2 separate regions of the Homo sapiens genome follow, and region 1 is linked to region 2. The links come from fine-mapping of genetic effects on gene expression. A gene starts in region 2. The other region holds a variant in brackets. All regions are shown on one strand. Distances are between the middles of the regions.

Region 1 (4,382 bases), 22 kb before region 2:
CTTCTCGTCTTCTTGGGGAGGAGAGCATCAGGACTCCAGCACAGCCCCCTCCCTGCCTTTCCCACACGGAGTCAGATCCTTCTGTCCATCCTCCCCCTCCTGCATCTCAGCTGGAGGATGCCTGAGGCCCACTTAAGGATGCCCACCCACCCAAAAACCAAAGTTGTTCTTCAAACTCTGGGAGCCTGGAGTGCTCTTCACACAGGGAGCCCAGCCCCAAATGGTTATGACTGACAGAAGACAATGAGGGGCCTGAGTTTGAGCTGACAATACCTTTTTTTCTGAGAGCCATTTCTAGCCTGTTTCATGTTCCCCTGAGCAAGGGAGGTAGCATGAAGATCAGCAGCTGTTTTTAAGGCAGAAAGATGGCTCAAGGCCAGATAGTTTGAGATGAGGAGGGGGATAAGGCAGACTAGACCCCGAAATAACAAGGTGATGTGGCCTCTAGAGCTGAAGAGGTGTGGTGAGCATGATCTTCAGGGACTGAATTGGGGCCCTGGGACCCAGCTGAAGAGGGGAGATGGCAGGGAGCCAGGTCCCATGGGTCTAGTTCTACTCCTCATCTCACACTTTGTCATACTTGGTGATGACACTTCGGGAAGACCTGGCTCCAGGAAGCACGACCCTGAAAGTGTGGGCCAAGGAAGCCAGAGGCAGGGACTACCAGAGGTGACACACTGTCCTGTCACCTGACTCCTTGTCTTGCTACCAATCTGCTCCTCTGCTTGGCATCCCACACATCACTTCCCCAGCTATGTCTGTCTGTCCTCCTGCAGGAGGGCTCTGGCAGCTGGCAGGAGGGGATCTGAGGGCAGGTGGAACATGGGAGGACCTGGATCAGGAGCTGACCTAGCCAAGATCCATCATGCAAGACACAGAGGCACACGGAAGTAGTAGAAACTTGAAGGTTCTTTATTGATTTATTTATTAACCCGTTTTCCAGAAGGTTGCTTGGGCCCGAGAGTCACCTGCAGAGGCGCAAAGCCTCCTCGACATTCTTTATGGGGCTGAGCTCATCAGCCAGGACCATCAGGTCAGTCACCAGGGTGTCCAGCAGCCCACGGACCTGGAAGAACGGGACAACATCACAGGCAGAGTTTACTCTGTGGGAAGCACCTATATATGAACTATGCTGTGAGAGAATAGCTGGAGAGGGGAAAGAAACCAGTTGTTTGTGAAAGAATTTCACAAGTTCAAAGTTCTTGTGAAATAATTTTTGGTTTTGCAGATTTTTTTTTTTTTTGACAGGATCTCACTCTGTCACCCAGGCTGGAGTCCAGTGGTGTGATCATGGCTCACTGCAGCCTTGACTTCCCTGGCTCAGGTGATTCTCCCATCTCAGCCTCCCAAGTAGCTGGGACTACAGGCGTGCACCACCAGACCTGGCTACTTTTTTCTATTTTTTGTAGAGATGGGGTTTCACCACATTGCCCAGGCTAGTCTCGAACTCCTGGGCTCAAGCAATCCACCTGCTTTTGCAGTTTTACTTTTCAAACCAGTCTGGGGAGGTGGCCCTGCGCTGGTACCTTTGACATATGGAGATACTAGAGCTAAGTTGTTCAAGGGGCAACTCCAGGGAGCCCATGGAGCGGTGCCCATTTAGCCGTTTGGGGTGGGCCTGGGCTCAGCCCCAGTTCTACTCTGGCCTCCTGGAGGCCAATTTTCCTTCCTGTATCCACAGACTGAAAGGTCTCTGGGACTGACCCCTCCAATGGGGTTGGATCATACAAGCCCAGACAAGTTGATTCTTTTTTTTTTCTGCAGAGATGGGGTCTCCCTGTGTTGTCTAGGCTGATGTCGAACTCCTGGGCTCAAGCAATCCACCTGCCTCAGCCTTCCAACGTGCTAGGATTACAGGTGTGAGCCACTGGCCAGCAAGTTGATTCTTTTTTTTTGGAGGTAAGAGTCTCACTCTTGTCACCCAAGCTGGAGTGAAATGGCGTGATCTCGGCTCACTGCAACCTCCACTTCCCGGGTTCAAGCGATTATTGTGCCTCAGCCACCCAAGTAGCTGGGACTACAGGTGAGTGTCACCATGCCTGGCTAATTTTTTGAATTTTTAGTAGAAACGGGATCTTACCATGTTGCCCAGGCTGGTCTTGAACTCCTGAGCTCAGGCAATCTGCCCACCTTGGCCTC[C/T]CAAAGTGCTGGGATTACAGGCACGAGCCACCGCACCTGGTCTGCAAGTTGATTCTTAATATCAAAGAGCCATGGAAGGGTTGACGTTGACCCCCATGGGTCCTCAGAGCCCTTTAATTACTTTCTAGACCCCATCAACCATCTGATATCTTAGTGATGTCACCAGTGGCAAATGGAACTTTTGATCAAATGAGATCCAGAGTGTGACCACAATACATGATGTAATCCCAGCTCCCCAGCTATCCACATTAGAGGAAGGCAAGACGTCGCCAATAGACATACTGACATATTGAAAATGGCTTTGTGGACCTCCCCTCCAAAACAAACAACAACACTAACAAACAAAACGGAAAACCTGGGTGAATTTCTAAGGACCTGCTACTTAAGAACGGATTAGGATGAAGTCTCTCTAGTCCTTCAAACTCTTACAGTTGATGGGAATGCACCCTGCATGGTGTTCTCCCAAGGAACGCATCTGCCAGGATGCACCTAACGGGGAGTAAGAAAGAGAAGGGCTTCCTTCCTCTCTGTTCCCCTAGAGTCTGTTCTCCAAAGGGCGGCCAGAGCCACCTTCTAAAGCCTATCAGACCCTATTGCGTTTCTATTCAAAACCTTGCGTGACTTCTCATTTCACTCCGAAAAATCCCAAGTCTTCACAATAGCCTGCAAACCATCCCCCACCCCTATGACCTGCTCCCCACTACTGCCCTCTCCCTTCTGGCCCCTCCCTCCTATGGCAGTTGCTCCCCATGCCTGGAGCACTCTTTACTGGACGTCTACTTGGCCACCCTTCCCCTCCCTTCAAATCTTTGTGGGTTGTCACCTCCTCACTGAGGCCTCTGTGCCTCCATTCCCTGCCTGGTCTATCTTCTCTCCCGTCGTACTCATCACCTAACATGCTAGGCGCATTCCTTATTCATGAGGCCTGTCTCACACACGAGGATGCCCTTCCTGAAGCAGCTCTGCTTCCACCATGATGGAGTGGGCACTTATTGTCTGCAGACTGAACGGAATGAATAAGGCAGGTGGGAGGCAGGGGAATGGCTGCTGGGCGCTTCCCTTCACCTCACTGTGCAGGCTCTGGGTGTATTTCCCCATGACCAGGGGGTCTATGGGTTCTTGAGAAGAGAGGATGATGTCAGGGGTAGGGTCTTCCAAAGAAAACCTGTCCTGACTTGCAGATTTTATGACTTTCTTGTCATCCTTTGCCTTGTGCTTCTTGCTGTTGGGACGGTCCTGCTGGGGGAGGGAGACACACATAGCCTTCAGGAGCTCCAGAGGTAGGCCAAGGATGTCCTCAACAGTAGCTCACTGGGAGAGCCTGGGCACATGCCCACCTCCACAGCCCCCACCTCCGCAGCCCCTCCAATCCCCTCCCCAGCCCCACCTGGCCCAGACCACGCCCCAGCATGCCTCTTTCCCGAGCAGCTTGGCTCCTTTCTTGTCTTCTTTGTCTTTGATCCCCAGTTGCTTCTTTTCCTGGGCTGCTCCTTTCCGCTCCTCCTTCCCAGCTTTCCCCACAGGTACCTTCACTTCCATGATAGGAGGTGATTTTTGATCTAAGGGAGGTGGGTGGAAGAAAATATGGCAGGCCCCCAACAGCCTAGTGGATGCTGCAGGTACGTGAGGAGGCTTGAGGGGAGGTGGAAAAGCAAAGGGCAATAGCCTTGAGCCCTGGTAGGCGCGTGGCTTCATGAAACAGGACTGTGGTGCCTATGTTCTGGTCCCAGCTCTGCCATGCCATGAATGGCCATGGATAAGTCATTTAACTTTGCTGGGATTACTAAACCAAGGTGGTCACTAAGGTAGCTTCTGGGTACCACATCCTGGCAGCGGACAGAAAGGGGTAAGGGGCCTACTCCATGGGCTCAACCTAGCAGAGCTTCCACCAAAGGAGTATGACTGGCCCAGGCACTGCTGCTTGTCCATTCAGAGAGATGAGGAGGGCTATGCAGAGGTGTGGTTGGTTGCACAAGATCTGACCTTGCTCTTCAGGCACATTCAAATAGATGGTCTCCTTCTCAGGCAGGCCCAGCACAGACCTCAGCCACATGGAATGGCCCACCAGGCTGTCAATCACATCTCGCCACAGCTGCAAACTAGAGGGCAAGACACAGTGGAGAAATGCCATCACTCCTCATTTGTCCTTGAACCTGCAGAGGCTTGGGTCCCTCCCTTCAAAGACCCTGGTGCCACGAGCTGCTGTGGAAATGCCACACCCCTGAACAGCCAGCATCCTCACT
Region 2 (4,382 bases):
ATATATATATAGTATGTCATAAAACAGCATTGGACTTTTATTTTTTTAATAATGGGGGTCTCACTGTGTTGCCCAGTCTGGAATGCAGTGGCTATTCACAGGTGTGATCATAAACTCCTGGCCTGGAACAATCCTCCTGCCACAGCCTCCTGAGCAGCTGAGACTGCAGATGTGCACCACCATGCCCGGCTCAACGTTGGACTTTTATACGTGAAGAAACATAAAGCCATACTGAAAAGCGACTAAGCTCCTGTTAGTTTTCTGAGGGTCCCCTCTCCTCACAATGAGCTTTCACAACTCTGAGGCTGGGTCTCCCCAGGGCCTGCAAGAGCACATCCAGGCTTTCTGACCTAGTACATAAAGCCCTTTCATGGTCTGGCCCCTGACCTACCCACCTGTGCAGCCTCTTCTGGTTCCCACATTTACAGTTCCATAAACTCATGCTGCTTCCTAGACCTAGAGAAGCAAACCTCTCCTTTTTTTTCTTGTCTGCCATAGATGTCACCTTCTTCAGAAGACGTACCCCTACAACCATCCCTGGTCTGGCTCAGGTGCTCTGAGCCCCCTTAAGCCCGATGGGCACCTACATCACAGCATTTGTATTTCTACCTTTGTCAGGTTACTCCTCCAGGTGTTCATTAGACTGAGTTTCTTGAGGACCAGGGTCACACAGTTAATACCGATACCCTTCTGGTGAGCCACAGTACCACACAAAATCAGCTCTCAGTAAACAAAAATAGGCTGGGCGCAGTGGTCCATGCCTGGAATCCTAGCAGTCTGTGAGGCCGAGGCAGGAGGATCGCTTGAGGCCAAGAATTTGACACTAGCTGGGGCAACACAGCGAGAGCCCTGTTTACAAACACACACACACACACACACACACACACACACACACACAGAAAAAAAAAGCTAAAAATTAAATTTAAAAATAAATAAATGGAAACAGCCAAAAAAGATCAAAAGGGGGTGGGTTGCAAGTGAGAACATGTCCATGGAAGTCAGTCCGCTATCAGACGCCCTGTGGCTCTCCCAGGTGCAACCAGAAGAAAGCTGTAGAGGGTAGGAAGCAGTCATATCTAGCGATTCTTTCCAGGCTAAAGGAGCTGGATAAGTGTCATCCAGCTGGAAAGTGCACGTGGTAGGAAAAGGCAGTCAAAAAGAGAACTAGCCAAGCAAGGCCTTTCTTCTGGGTTTTTCCAGCAGGAATCCTAAGTGACGCCTGCCCCGCTCCCCGACCCTCCTCTACCAAATAATCCCATCAAGGTGGCTGGTTTCAACACTTCATTCTTTCCTCTTCCCAAGGACCCCAATTCCTGGCCCTTCTACCCTTAAACTCTTTCCTGGCTCTTCTGCACTTCATCCAGTCCGGGGATCCTGCCTCCTGCATGCCACCCTAAGATGTGGTTAGAGGTAGCGCAAGGCCATCTCCCCAGCCAGTGGTCCCTGAGGCCCCTCTGTCAGTCTCCCACTTCCTATGTCCCCATCCCCAAGGCCCAGTGCGCTGTAGGCTCTTCCTGCCTTGCCCCCCATCCCTAAGGGTCCTATGCCCAGTACCCCACTTCCCCGTGATCTTTCCTCCATCCCTGGTGCCATCCCCATCCTCCAGGCCCCGTGTCCTGAACTCTTTCCGGGGACCGCTTCCCCTCTCGGGTTCTCCCGAGCGCCCAAGGCAGCCAGCGCCAACCTTTGACATTCTCTGAGGCCTCTAATAATCTGGTCGGAGTTATTCTGAGGCGGGAATCCTTCTTTAGAGACTTCATGGTGCCGCCCGGCACCATGAAACGTTGCCCTGCACCGCCGGCCCAGAGACACCGAGGCTGCGCCGCACCCGCCAGCCAACGGCCGCCACTGCGTCCACAGCAACCGGTGCCCCGCGCGGGGGCGCGCATCCACCGATCAACTTGGGCGGAGACGGCTTGGAAACCTCCTTCTTCATCGGGCCGCGCACGCGCCCGCCGCCGGCGGCTTCAAGAGCGACGGACCCCTAGAAAGCCCTGCGGGCCCGGCCTGTGACGCCACAGGCGGCGCCGACGAGCGCCGTGACGTCACCAGCCGGGCGGGGCGGGGCGGGGGACCCGGGCGAGGACCCCCGCGAGTTGCGGGAGCCGAGGGCTGGGTGGGAGTGGCTGGCTGGTAGGGGTGCATGACCCGCCTCGCCCCGCCCTGCTGCTAGGCCACGGGGGGCGGGTGGGGCGTCGGGGGTGCCAGCCCCTGCTTCCCGCCTTCCTCGACTAAGGCCACATCCTGTCGAGGGACCTCCCTCTGCCCCCCTCACAGCGGTTCTGGGGGGGGATCGGGCCTTTCAGGACGTGCTGAAACCCCTTCGTGGCGTACCGTAGGTTTTAGGTGTCCCTGCCTGCCGTCCCCAACTCGCACCAACGCGCCTGGAGACCTCCCGGGTCCACGCTCGCTGCAGCCACTTTGGCCTTTCATCACTTCCCAAACCAGCCAAAACTTTTGCCCTGACTTGGGGCATTCTCACAGTCCTTGGAGATGCTGCCTCTGATTATTTTAAGTTTATAAACGCACCCGCTTTTTTCGCCTTCCCCTGGAGCCCTGAGGCATTCTGGGATTATTTCGGTTTTTTGTGTAGTTGCCTATTGTCAAACTGGCTCTCAGAATGTATGAGAGCAGGAGCTGCCTCAGGCCCTGCCCCCAACCCAAAGTTTAGCACTAGTAGTCAGGCAGTAAATTGTACCTCAAATAGTGAAGGGGTTCTAGAGCCAGACAATTGGGTTCTAATCCCAGCTATGTCGGCTTGTTAGCTGTGTGTTCTTGAGCCAATGCCTTGACCTAGAGAGCCGGTTTTCTCTGCTGGGCACAGTGGTTCAGGCCTACAATCCTAGTGCTTTAGAAGGCTGAGGCAGGAGGATTGGTTGAGGCCAGGAGTTCAAAATTGACCTGAGCAACGTAGGGAGACTCCATTCTAAAAAAAAAAAAAAATTTTTTTTTTTTTTTTTTTGAGACGGAGTCTTGCTCTGTGCCCAAGCTGGAGTGTAGTGGTGCCATCTCGGCTCACTGCAACCTCTGCCTCCCAGGTTCAAGCGATTCTCCTGCCTCAGCCTCCTGAGTAGCTGGGATTACAGACGAGTGCCACCATGCCTGGCTAAGTTTTGTATTTTTAGTAGAGATGGGGTTTCACCAGTTGGTCAGGCTGGTCTCGAACTCCTGACCTCGTGATCTGCCCGCCTCGGCCTCCCAAAGTGCTAGGATTACAGGCGTGAGCCACCGTGCCTAGCCTAAAAAAATTTTTTTTTAATTAGCTGGCTTTGGTGGCCCACACCTGTAGTCTTAGCTACTCTGGAGGCTAAGGCAGGAAGATTGCTTGAGCCCAGGAGGTCCAGGCTGCAGTGAGCTCTGATTGCACCACTGTACTCCAGCCTGGGCAACAAAGTGAGATCCCCATCTCATACATCCATACATACATATATACATACATAAAATGGAGGTCATAATGCTGCTCTCACAAGGCCACTGCCAGGGTTAAATGAATATGTATGTATTTCTTTTTCTTAGCGAGTATCTCACTCTGTTGCCCAGGTTGGAGTGCAGTGGCACAATCATAGCTCACTGCAGCTTCAAACTCCTGAGCTTAAATGATCCTGCTGCCTTAGCCTTCCGAGTAGCTGGGACTACAGGCATGTGCCACTGCACCCAGCTAATTATTAAATTTTTTGTAGAGACAGGGTCTTGCTATGTTGTTCAGGCTGGTCTTGAACTCGTGGGCTTAAGCGATCCTCCCGCCTTGGCCTCTCAAAGTGTTGGGATTACAAGCATGAGCCACCTCACCTGGCCTGAGTGTGCATTTAAACTACGAAACAGGGTGCCCTCCATAAACTGTAGTATCTTCTCAGTCAATTCTCAAAATCATGCTGGGGTTGAAGGGAGGGGACACATTATAAGCCCATTTTACAAACGGAGAAACTGAGCTCCAGAGAGAAGGGTGTAATGTCACCTGACTAGCGGGAAGCACAAATTGAACCTGGTTTTCTAAAGTCCAAGGCCAGGGCTCTTTGAACCCTGTCTCCTGGGACATTTCTGAGTTTGCAAGAGCTGCCCCAGACAGCGGAGGAGCTAGAGACGATGCCAGCAGTGCTGGTGAATCCCTGAGTTCCCTGTGTGTTGCCCGTTGCTGGGTCCTGCTCCAGGGCCATGGCCCCTTCTTCACACTGCTCTAGACCTTGCTCTCCTTATGACTGAGGCATCCTCCACGGACAGCCCCTCTCCTGCTCTCCGAGGCCCAGGCTCTGGCTTCCCTCTACCCTCTAGAGAATCCCCAGTTCCGTTTACTTCGCGACTGAGCACTTATGATCCAGCAGGCTAGGTGCTGTGCCATGTGGGTCCTCCAGGAAGCAAGCACTGAGATGAACATAGGACCGCAA

The links. PIP is the estimated chance that this variant, and not a neighbour inherited with it, causes the effect. A credible set is the group of variants that fine-mapping cannot tell apart.
Region 1: its variant is the best candidate, but not a certain one, in a credible set for the expression of MYCBPAP in testis (GTEx, PIP 0.85).

The regions. Positions count from the first base shown.
Region 1 is chr17:50,528,011-50,532,392 of GRCh38, reverse strand. It overlaps MYCBPAP (MYCBP associated protein), which reads right to left. Exons shown (of 19, transcript NM_032133.6): 16 at 4,123-4,238; 17 at 3,553-3,698; 18 at 3,205-3,375; 19 at 892-1,066. The coding sequence ends at 965. Among named protein-coding and RNA genes, the nearest start is that of EPN3, 2.5 kb to the left of the region's middle. The variant C/T (reference allele first, on the strand shown) is at 2,140.
Region 2 is chr17:50,506,053-50,510,434 of GRCh38, reverse strand. It overlaps MYCBPAP (MYCBP associated protein), which reads right to left and starts at 1,996. Exons shown (of 19, transcript NM_032133.6): 1 at 1,685-1,996. The coding sequence starts at 1,760. RefSeq lists enhancers at 1,771-1,900, 1,921-1,980 and a silencer at 2,001-2,290.